Homo sapiens: one gene and its partners. The protein of the gene in region 3 purifies or fractionates together with the protein of the main gene of each other region. This does not show direct contact. Each region holds a gene or a part of one and is shown on either strand. Other genes may lie near its edges.

What was found.
Region 1: the proteins of FAM32A (region 3) and DUSP22 purify together in Homo sapiens (co-immunoprecipitation; one large-scale study listed by IntAct). This does not show direct contact.
Region 2: the proteins of FAM32A (region 3) and ZNF346 purify together in Homo sapiens (co-immunoprecipitation; one large-scale study listed by IntAct). This does not show direct contact.

Annotation. Positions count from the first base shown.
Region 1 is NC_000006.12:330,477-334,123, forward strand, and holds part of DUSP22 (dual specificity protein phosphatase 22), read left to right. Parts: intron 1-3,647. UniProt on the Homo sapiens protein: Dual specificity phosphatase; can dephosphorylate both phosphotyrosine and phosphoserine or phosphothreonine residues. Activates the JNK signaling pathway.
Region 2 is NC_000005.10:177,025,589-177,029,235, forward strand, and holds part of ZNF346 (zinc finger protein 346), read left to right. Parts: intron 1-3,647.
Region 3 is NC_000019.10:16,188,310-16,192,593, reverse strand, and holds the end of FAM32A (protein FAM32A), read right to left. Parts: intron 2,075-4,284; coding exon 2,021-2,074; intron 1,708-2,020; coding exon 1,639-1,707; 3' UTR 548-1,638; downstream 1-547. UniProt on the Homo sapiens protein: Isoform 1, but not isoform 2 or isoform 3, may induce G2 arrest and apoptosis. May also increase cell sensitivity to apoptotic stimuli.

The DNA of each region.
Region 1 (3,647 bases), on a different chromosome or scaffold from region 3:
CATGCTTGAAACAAGCGAGAGTTTGATCTCTTTCTTTACCAGTCGTGAAATCAGAACCTTGGCCCTGCTTTTCAGGGACCTGCCTCCGTATCGTTTTAAGTGTAATCTTTAGTTTCAGGCCCAAAGAAAGGTAAAAACCTTACTTTTGGTGGTTACTATACTTGTTGAAACAGAAAACTGAAAAGTATTTAGAACTTTTGAGAAGATGGACTCAGGCAGCTCTAAGCTCTGGTTTGAAGAGCCGCTGGAAAACCTTCTGAACTTTCTTCTCCTCCAAGTGACGTCTGTTGTTTCTTTCAAAACCTAAACACAAAACCTTCACTAGAAAGCTGTCCTTAGCAGATCCCCCATCTCTCCTGCCTCTTTGCAGCATCTTCCAAATTTTTACATCACGTGGTTTTATACCGGTTGTTCTATACTAATTGTTTTATACATGCTGCTTGGCGTTAGTAATATACGGTGTACACCTGGTCCCCTCAACACAGGTAGAGACTGTTCCTTACTTCTTCCCCCTTTTCCTCTCCTGGTACTCACTTCGTCATGTTACGCCACTTAAAATGCCATCATCGCTGCTCTTTCTTTGTCCTCATAGAAATCATGACGGTCTTGAAGCAAACACAGAGCCCATTTTTCTTAACTGAGCTTGTTTTTGTATTTCAGTGTACTCGAGATTGAAGCACCGTAACTTGACGTTTAATAGCCTCATAAAACTGTGATGTTAATTGGCTTTCCACCAATCCACTGTTTTGGAACATCGTGGAAAGTGCTGAATTCTTATTTATTTAGTGAGACTTTTATTGCTACAGGAAGACAACCCATTTTATCTTTACTTTTTCAAATATTAGAGGTAGTATGAGGGAGTGAATACCTTACAGCAAACACTGTACTAATGGAAACATTGCTGTTATCTTCATTACTTACAAATTTTTCAGATTGTTCTAGAATTTTTATTGCTTTTTTTTTAACCTCCAAGTTTGTTATACTTTCCATAATTTATCTAAACTTATCCTGTCCTTTATTTCTATTTCTGTAAACTTCAAAACCGGAGAGTGGTCCTGTCTTGAGGACCTATTTGGTGAAACCATCTATTCCACATCACATTAAAACATTTGCAGAACTTATTCATTAGTACTAGGATACTTTTAAGTGGGCCAGCTTTCTTGTGGCACTGGGGGACTCATGCTGCTTTCTGAATTAGTAATTAACTGTCATGAATTGTACACATGTGCAGGTATCTGAAGCTGTTCTAAGGTAACTCAAATTCTGTAGTCTGTGGCTTGGGAGAGACTTTTCATGCTTTGTTAATAACTAAACCAAGATAAATAGATGTTCTTAGGTGGCGAGCAGCTGAACCTTTTTGACAGTTTTGACTCCTTCCTTGACTGAGTTTGCATATTCTTATTGTGGATCACGCCGACTGGCTCTCAGCTGCGTCCTGTTGCAGTGGCCAGGAGGGACGCTGGTGTCCCTTGAGCATGTGTGGGTGGCTTGCTGTTTGCATGGTGTGGGCTGAAGCCCAGCTCTCGTTTCGTGGTCACTGGCACAAATGATGGTGCTTTACAGTATTTTTCTTTCCTTGCACTCATCTGGCAGTGTGATCTTTGTGTTCATTGTTCTCATCCTCTGTCTCATCACTCTGCAGACATTTCAGTGAGTGCCTGCTGTGTGCCGGGCACCCTTGCAGGGAAGCTTGTTATCATTGCTGTTGTCATTCTGTCTTCAACAGAATATAATCTTGACTCAGGTTTTCTATTTTTATCTGTCCTGCCTTAGCAGCAGGTGGTCCCCAAATTGTGGTTGGGAGCCATTTTGTTCCTCTTCAGAGGATTCACAGATGGGAGGCTGCAGCTCCACACGCCCACCCCAGCGACTGTGGGCAGGGGCCAGCATGGCCAAGAGCTGCCTCCTCATCCTGGTGGTTCCCAGATGGAGAGATAGCCTTTGCCGTCTTCCTGTGGGTAGATTCTCGTGCCCACCTGACAAGGTGCTCCTGCCTCATGGGACCAGCCTGAGTTGGTCCTTTTGCTCATCGGGTGCCACAAAGGGGAACACAACCACACATGGAGACTGCCCATAGGAAGCACAATACTGTCCAGTCCCACGGCTGGTATTTATAGCCAGCAAAGAGCTATTCAGCAGACCCTCTGTCCATTCTCTTCCTGTCCTTCTTTTTTTTTTTTTTTCTTTCCTCTTGATATATAGACTAGGCTGATTTTAGATTCTGCTGGAATAAAGTGGCTGTCAGTCAACATCTGGGGGACGCCGGCATTTCCATCTCGTCTTAAGCTTCCTTGCCAGATGGAAGTCGCTGACACTGAAGATGGCACTAGAAGGGAAGGTGGGAACTTGAGGCTCCTTCTGGTCTGTCTGGAGGTGCTGGTCTCCAAGGAGCGTGGAGGGAGAGTGTGGGAGGAAAGGATTTCACAAGCTTCTGGACTGATCGACTGCCAACTCTCACTTAAGAGTAAAAGGAAAGAAGTGAATGAGTCATTTCAATGGTGGCTGCAGGAGGTGATCAATGTATGTGCATCTATACCAACAAGCTTGTTTGGCCTCCACGAAGGAAAGGACTGAAATTACTTTTAACAATAATACTTCCTTTTCCGTTTGTTTTCCCTTGAAGTCCGAGCTGTAATACCACTCTAGGTTTGAAGATACTTTCAGTGTTCCCAGCAGAGCACAGCCCACAAGCCCAGGAGAAATGAGGACAGAGACAGGAGGAGGCAACTGGGGATAACAAAGTGAAGGCAAAGGAGGGAGAAGCTGCTGCCTCACTTTCCTCTTCCACCAGCAGATTCTAAATTAACCCTTGGCATGGTTGAAGCCCATTTGGTCTTAAGTGAGATGTTCCCATGTGGATAAACAGCAATAAAGTTCATCTCCTTCAAGACCCAAAAGGGCCTTTATTGGAAGGTGTAAAGATTGATTTAAAGCTGGAAACAAAATGTACAGAAACTGTGAGGGAGAAAACGTTTTTGATTCAAAGCATACAGAAACTGTGAGGGGAAAGATGTTTTTCTGACCCCTCATCATTGTGGATGAGGCAAGAGGGAATTCTCTCACTTAGGTGTTAGTTGCAGTGAACAGATCCTGCTCTGACTCAGTTTCAGCAGGAAACAGCTTTTACTAAGAGAGACTGAAAGCTCATGGTTCCCTCAGAATAGATGGAGAACAGGTTTTAGGCTGAAGTTCAGGAGTGATCCCCAGAAAACTGGCCCCAAGCTCAGCGCCCACTTTGCCCCGAGCCAGCCCACCCCTGCCCCACCTGCCCCGCAAAGAGCATGTGCTCTGCCCCCGCCCTGCGCCCACGAAGCCCACGTGTGCTTCCCGGATCCCACTCAGTAGCTGCCGATCCGACTCCTGAGGGCCAGGTGGGGAGTCCCTAATCGCGAGGGAGGTTGGGACATGAAGTGTGTCTGGTGCCTGTATTGGAAAAGTAGGACTCACAATGTCAGGGGCTATTAAAATGTGTAGGAGGTGTGGAAGGATTAGGGGCAGCTACACATTTAGTTGTCCCTATTGGCAAATACAGCACAGAAATTCCTAACAATAGGAGTTAATGGTAAAAGTTTAATTAAAAATGCAGAAATTATTTGTGACTAATTACTGAAGATGCGTTGCGTTGTAACTCCATCTTCTGAGAACCT
Region 2 (3,647 bases), on a different chromosome or scaffold from region 3:
GGCATGTAGTGATATCTCATTGTGGTTTCCTAAAGACTGATAATACTGAGCAACTTTTCAGGGGCTGACTACCCATTTGTAGATCTTTGGTGAAATATCTATTCACATCATTTGCCTATTTTGTAATTGGGCTGTTTGTCTTCTACTGAGTTGTAAGAGTTATCTGTGTATTCTGGGTACAAGTCTTTTATTATAGATATGATTTCCAGGTATTTCCCCCTGACTGTGACTTGTTTTTTCATTTTCTAAACAGTGCCTTTTGAAGCACAAAAGTTTTAAGTTTTGATGAGATTAAATTTATCATTTTTTATCCTATGTATTGTGCTTTAGTGTCATATCTAAGAACTCTTTATCTTAACCCAAGATTTGAGAAATTTTCTCTTGTAGATCTTCCTTATTATTATTATTATTTTTTTTTTTGAGATGCAGTCTCACCCTGTCACCCAGGCTGGAGTGCAGTGGCATGATCTCAGCTCACTGCAACCTTCGTCTCCCTGGTTCTCCTGGAGGAGGTCAAGCGATTCTCCTGCCTCAGCGTCCCGAGTAGCTGGGATTACAGGTGTTCACCACCACATCTGGCTAATTTTTGTATTTTTAGTAGAGATGGGGTTTCACCACGTTGGCCAGGCTGGTCTCAAACTCCTGACCTCAAGTGATCTGCCCCCTTCAGCCTCCCAAAGTGCTGGCATTACACGCGTGAGCTACCATGCCCAGCCCCTTCCTCATCTTGTTTCTGAAGGAGTTTGTGAAGGATGGATTGGTAATTTTTTTTTTTTTTTTTTTTTTTTTGAGACAGAATCCCACTCTATCGCCCAGGCTAGAGTGTGGTGGCACGATCTCAGCTCACTGCAGCCTCCCTGTCCCAGATTTAAGTGATTCTCCCGCCTCAGCCTCCTGAGTAGCTGGGATTACAGGAGGGTGCTACCACACCCAGCTAATTTTTTTGTATTTTTAGTAGAGACAGAGTTTCACCATGTTGGCCAGACTGGTCTTGAACTCCTGACCTCAGGTGATCCACCAGCCTTGGCCTCCCGAAGTGTTGGGATTACAGGTGTGAGCCACCACACTCAGTTGGTAATATTTCTTTTTACAGTATTTTATAGAAGTGTTGACCTGCAAGGAAGAGGCTAACACACAAAATATGATTTGAAGAGTTTACTTGATTTTTAAAGGCAAAAAAATGTGGACAGGGAGTGGGACTCATACAAAGTTGTTTATCAAGAATTCTCATTGATTTACAGAAATAACATTGGTTAGTGATTGGCTGTACATTAAGCTGTAGGATGTAGGATATAGCGTCAGGTAGGGCATTATTAGGTTAATCCTTACCCACTTGTGGCAATAGCAAGCAGTTTTGATAGATGAATCTTAGCTCAAAAAGGGAGAATAGGAAGTGATTGCTATCTCATTTTAATATCTCTCTGGGCCCTGATCATTTAAAAAAACTTGGATTCTTTAGATAAAAGTTATCTTCTTTTTTTTCAGACAGAGACTCACTCTTCCGCCCAGACTGGAGTGCAGTGGTGTGATCTCGGCTCACTGCAACCTTTGCCTCCCGGGTTCAAGCGATTCTCGTGCCTCAGCCTCTCAGGTAGCTGGGATTACAGGCGCCTGCCAGCACACCCAGCTAATTTTTGTATTTTTCGTAGAGACGGAGTTTCACCATGTTGGTCAGGCTGGTCTCAAACTCCTGACCTCAGGTGATCCGCCTCAGCCTCCCAAAGTGCTGGGATTACAGGGGTGAGCCATCACGCCCAGCCGATAAAAGTTATTTTCTGACCTGCCTGGGCAACGTGGAGAAACCCTGTAAATTTTTGTAAAATTTGTGTTTTTGTAAAAATACAAACATTAGCCAGGTGTGGTGGCTCACATCTGTAATCCCAGCTACTCAGGTGGCTGAGGCACGAGAATCGCTTGAACCCAGGAGGCTAAGGTTGCAGTGAGCCGAGATTGTGCCACTGCACTCCAGTCTAGGCAACACAGTTGAGACTTTGTCTCAAAAAAAAAAAAAAAAAAAAGTTATCACCAGTGAAGCTACCTGGGCCTAAGCTTTTCTTTCTTCCTTTCCTTTTTTTTTTTTTAAATTCTCTATTTATTTATTTAGAGACAGGGTCTCTGTTGCCCAGGCTAGAGTGCAGTGGCACAATCATAGCTCACTGCAGCCTCAGACTCCTTCAAACTCAAAGCTAGGACTGCAAGGGCATACCACCATGCCCAGCTAATTTTTGTGTTTTTTTAAATAGAGGGTCTTGCTCTGTTGCCCAGGCTGGTCTGAAACTCCTGGCCTCTAGTGATCCTCCTGCCTCAGCCTCCCAAAGGGTTAGGATTATAGGCAAGCATGCGCCATGGCACCCAGCTGGCTTCGGCTTTTCTTTGTGGAAAGGTATTTGATTATTCATTTTCTTTACTTGTTTTAAGTGTACACAGAATATTTTGTTTCTCCTTGTGTCACTTTTTTTTTTTTTTTTTTTTTTTTTTTTTTTTGAGACGGGGTCTTGCCAGGCTGGAGTGCAGTAATGATCACTGCAGCCTTCGCCTCCCAGGTTCAAGCAATTCTCCTGCCCCAGCCTCCCGAGTAGCTGGGATTACAGGCATGTGTCACCATGCCCGGCTAACTTTTTTGTATTTTTAGTAGAGACGGGGTTTCACTGTGTTGGCCAGGCTGGTCTTGAACTCCTCGAACTCTAAAGTGATCTGTCCGCCTCTGCTTTCCCAAAGCACTGGGATTACAGATGTGAGGTCCCTGATTATTTTCTTGGTTAGTCTAGCTAAGAATTTGTCATTTTCTTGATCTTTTCTAGTTTCTAAGGTAAGATCTTATGTTGCTGATTTGAGTGATTTGAGATCCTTCTTTTCTGATGTAGATGTTTAAAATTATAAATTTCTCTCTTAAGCACTTGTGACGTTTTATATATATATATATATATATATATTTCCCTCCATAGTTCCTGGCTCACAGCTTCTATAACCCTTGTACTTTCCTCAGTGACTAAAGCAGTAAGAGTATCTTCTGTTAAAATATTTGGCCTTTTGTCCTTGCTTCCTGAAACACCTCTGGAACTGCTCCAGAGCAAGAAAGGTGAAAAACAGACTTTTGTTATTTATAACAAGCCCCTTTCTTTTTTTTTTTTTTTTTTTTTTTTTTTTATGAGATGGAGTCTCGCTCTGTTGCCCAGGCTGGAGTGCAGTGGTGCGATCTCGGCTCACTGCAAGCTCCGCCTCCCAGGTTCATGCCATTCTCCTGCCCCAGCCTCCCAAGTAGCTGGGACTATAGGCGCCCACCACCACACCTGGCTAATTTTTTGTATTTTTAGTAGAGACGGGGTTTCACCATGTTAGCCAGGCTGATCTCGATTTCCTGACCTCGTAATCTGCCCTCCTCGGCCTCCCAAAGTGCTGGGATTACAGGCGTGAGCCACCGCACCCGGCCATATAACAAGCCCCTTTCAGCCACACCTTGGTACATGTTAATAGGGTGATTTTTGAGAAGTCCCTAGATTACCACATTCTGGTTGGCTGGTTGCCATAGGAACCAACCATGTGCTCAGAGGCTTGGAAGTTACAGCCCCCCATCTTGAGAGGGTAGAAAGGAGCTGAAGGTTGAATTGATCACCGATAGCCAGTGATTTAATCAACCATGCCTATGT
Region 3 (4,284 bases):
TTCCACAGTAGTACATAATGCAGACTCCTGCTGCTAGCTTGTGGAAGGAAAAGGTCTGAAACTGTCTTTCCACCAGGCCATGGGAGAATCACTGGCAAAAGCCACTGCTAATGAGAGTGTGTGTCATCTCTCTTAGGTGTGAACCATAGGCGGGAACAGATGTGCCATCGAAATTTTTCCACCTGAGTTGCCGTTTTCCAGTATGAATATTTTTCTGTGCCACAAATCCAAAAGACATTTTGGTGACAAACAGCCTATAAGAGGACACTCAGCACTTTGGGAGGCTGAGGCGGCAGATCACTTGAGGTCAGGAGTTCGAGATCAGCCTGGCCAATATGGAAAAATCCCGTTTCTAACTAAAAATACAAAAATTAGCCAGGCGTAGTCGCGGTTGCCTGTAGTCCCAGCTACTTGGGAGGCTGAGGCAGGAGAATCACTTGAACCTGGGAAGTGGAGGTTGCAGTGAGCCAAGATTATGCCACTGCACTCCAGCCTGGGCAAGAGAGTGAAACTCTGTCTGGGAAAAAAAAAAAGAAGACACTCAGACTTACAATAACTGACTTTTGCTTTATTGTGTAATTTACACAGGACAACCCCAAATTCCACACTTCGTTTTTCTCTTCTGCCTTCATTATTCTTTCAATATCTACGTCAACAGAAATCGTTTCTCCCAATAACATATGTGGTTTGATCCTCAGCCAGGACGCACAGGCCCTACAAGATCCCAGCCCTCCAACACGGACACCTGGACCCTCCCATTTGACTGCAGCCTTGTCTGTTTGTACCGGGGCTCTGCCCTGGTCCTGTCACCCCTGAGACGTCCGTAAGGTAGGAATGCCAAACAGGATCTGTGTGATGTGTCAACTCTGAGTAAATACAAGAGGCTGCTAGGAGCCCCCAGCTGAGGATTGAGAGGCAGGCTGTGTCTGGTTCCATTTCAAAGAATGCTGTGATGCATTAGCAGCGTCTGCTATGGCAACACCCATTAGAAGCACCTGGAAGGGGGGTTTTGGGAAACGGGCTCAGAAAGGAGCAAGGTGTGTCCGTTCCATTCTTGCCTTAGGTGGCTGTTCCGTTACCCAGGCTATGCTGTCTCAGTGGCCAGGTGGCTGAGGAGGAAGTCTGAAGGCCGCATAGTTGCAAGTGGCTTCCCTAGGGCCTGCAGGGGACAGCATAGGCCCAAAGCTAGAGGAAGCTTGGAAGGGCGCCCACGCTGGGTCCTGCGGGGCTCTGCATACTGCAGGCCACCATGGCGCTAGCTCCTTACCCTCTGGAGTCTGTCTCATCCAGGAGAAGACAGCTGGCTGGCCTCAGAGCGTTACATGCAACTCGGGTGAAAACATTTTTACATGACACAGACACACAATGGGCTTTACCTCTGGATAAACTTAGAAACTTTCCATCCAAACGAAAAGGGTGTATCTTCTGTATGTTGCCAAGAAGCCTAAACTGAGTACAAGGACGATCTTACTTTAATCAAGTTCCAGAATGAGGGTACACAGCTTCGAAAAGCAGTCTGTAGCAGAAGATGCAAGGGTGTGTGTAGCCATGTTTCCAGAATATACCAAAGGAAACACACACAACCCCAGTGTGGCCTTTTGCGAACCCTCGATGCTGCTCCATACTGGGGGCAGGCGGCTACTTCGTCCAGCTGACTTTGGGAATGTCGTAATGCTCCGTGAGTGTGTCCAGGTGTCTGTTGAAGTCCTGGGGAGGTGGAGTAGAAGGCCGGTGTCAGCGCAGACCCAAGTGGGGTACTGGGGAGAAGTGGCACTGCCCAGCCCCACCTCTCCCACATCCTATCTCTCCTGAGCCCCCTCCTCTCAAACTCACCCTGCCAGGTCTTACAGACTCCTGAACCCTGGGCTCCCCTTTGAATAACCCTGGGGAAGTGTCACTTCTATTAGGTAAACTTCCCTTCTCGTCAACATGCCAACAGCTCCCTCTGCCAGCTGATAGCCTCTGGGCCCAGCTGGGACCCTGAATGGCTCAGTCTCCCCCACTGGACACGGCGACTCACCTCCACTCTCTGCTTGTGGGTTTTGGATGCCTTCTTTAGGATCCTTTCCATTTGCTGGAGAGAGAAGAGACATGGAGGTGAGTTTACAGGCTCAACACAGCCCAGGCTGGCATGGGGTGGAAGATGGAGCCTGGCCAGACTGGCTCTCACATTTAGAACAGCTGGAGGTTTCAGGCTCTGTGCCTTGTCCCCCTCCCTCAACTCCACCCAGGCTGGTCCAACAGGGAACCCAGGTCACTTGCCAGCTTCGTGAGTGGCAGGAAATGAACCAGCAATGCCTGAGCGCGTACCCATGAGCAGACTCTGCTGGGAGCTGTCGGCATGCTTCCTGCATCCTGAGGAGGCTGTTAGCACTCCCAGTTTGGAGGAAAACAAAGTCCCAGAGCGGGTTTCAGGAATGATGAGAAAGAGAGAGGTAAAGGGTCTGACATAGAGCAGGTGCTCAAGTGACACTTCCCATCCTGATGTTAGGGCTACAAGACCAGGATCACCATCCCCAGGGTTATTCTGAAATATGCCTCCTGCACCATGACCTGCTCTGATCCTCACTTCAAACACTCAATGACACCTGGAAAGGTCAGTATCTGGTAGCAGCTGGGAGTGTGGGCTGGGCGCGGTGGCTCATGCCTGTAATCCCAGCACTTTGGGAGGCTAAGGCAGGAGGATAGCTTGAGCCCAGGAGTTCAAGACTAGCCTGGGCAACATAAGGAGACCCCAACTCTACAAGAAAATCAGCTGATTTTGGTGGTGCACACCTGTGGTCCCAGCTACTCAAGAGGCTGGGGTGAGAGGACTGCTTGACCCAGGAGGTTGAGGCTGCAGTGAGCTATGATCACACCAATGCACTCCAGCCTGGGTGACAGAGAGAGAGACCCTGTCAAAAAAAAAAAAAAAAAAAAAAAAAAGAGTTGGAGTGTGGGATATAAAGCCAGACAGATCTGAGGCCACACCTGGCTCCACACTTCCTGGCTGGGTGACTGTGGCCCACTCTTTGGTGGCCCCTATAACTGTGCTGCCTATGATTCATCCCTTGTGCAGTCCCCATGCCACACTGACTCTGACCTGGCCGTGGACTCAGTTAACTCGAAGGAACACAGTACCAGTTCTGGGTCCATGCATAAGACCTGGCAGCATTAGCTTTGTGCCCTTGGAAGCCAGTTGCTGTGCAGGAAGTCTGATGGCCCTGCTGGAAAGAAAGGACCTGGAAGATGAGATGACATGAAGGAAGAGGCCACGAAAGAAGCACTGAGAGGTGGGGCATGGCGGCTCATGTCTGTAATCTCAGCACTTTGGGAGGCCAAGGTGGGAGGATCACTTGAGGCCAGGAGTTTGAGACCAGCCTGGCCAACATGGTGAAACCCCGTCTCTACTAAAAATACAAAAATTAGCCAGGTGTGGTGGCATGCGCCTGTAGTCCCGGCTACTTGGGAGGCTGAGGCAGGAGAATAGCTTGAACCCGGGAGGTGGAGGTTACAGTGAGCTGAGATCTTGCCATTGCACTCCAGCCTGGGCAACAGAACGAGACTGTCTCAAAAAAAAAAAAAAAAAAAAAAAGAAGCACTGAGGCACCAGCTATATGGCGACAAAGCCATCTTAGATGCTGCAGCCCAGCTGCACCTTCAGAGACTCCAGGCCCAGCTGCCATCTGACCACACCAGACTCCAAGTGAGGTCAGACCCTGCTAAGCCCAGTCAACCCAGAGCATCATGAGATATTATTGGTAGGGGCCACCTGGCTGCTCCTCTCTGTCCCCCCCTTCTCCTTCATTCCCTCACCTCCTGTGTCCAGTCAGCCCTCACCTGGCTGATTCTCCCTCTAAGGCGAGTGCCCTGCCCATCTCTGTCCCTCTTCCTGCTGCTGTGAGCCCAGCCAAAGCCTGTGTCTCCCTGTGAGAAGCCACACTGACTTGTCCAGCTGCCACACAATGCCAGGCACCTGGCTGGGCTCTGCCCACAGGCGTGACACCCAGCTACTATTTTAGTTTTTGAAGAGACAGGGTATCGCTATGTTGCCCAGGCTAGTCCTGAACTCCTGGGCTCAACTGATCTTCCCACATCGGCCTCCCAAAATGTTGGGATTACAGGCATGAGCCACTGTGCCTGGCTGACTCCACTTGGATTTCTACTGGGGCACTGCATTTACCTTCTTTAAAACTATAGCTTTGGTTCCCCCTCCCTCAACTCCCACTCCAGAAAACCTGCTTTACCTGCAATCCTTCCCACCCCAGTAAACAGCACCTTCATTCATCAAACTGCCCAGCCCAA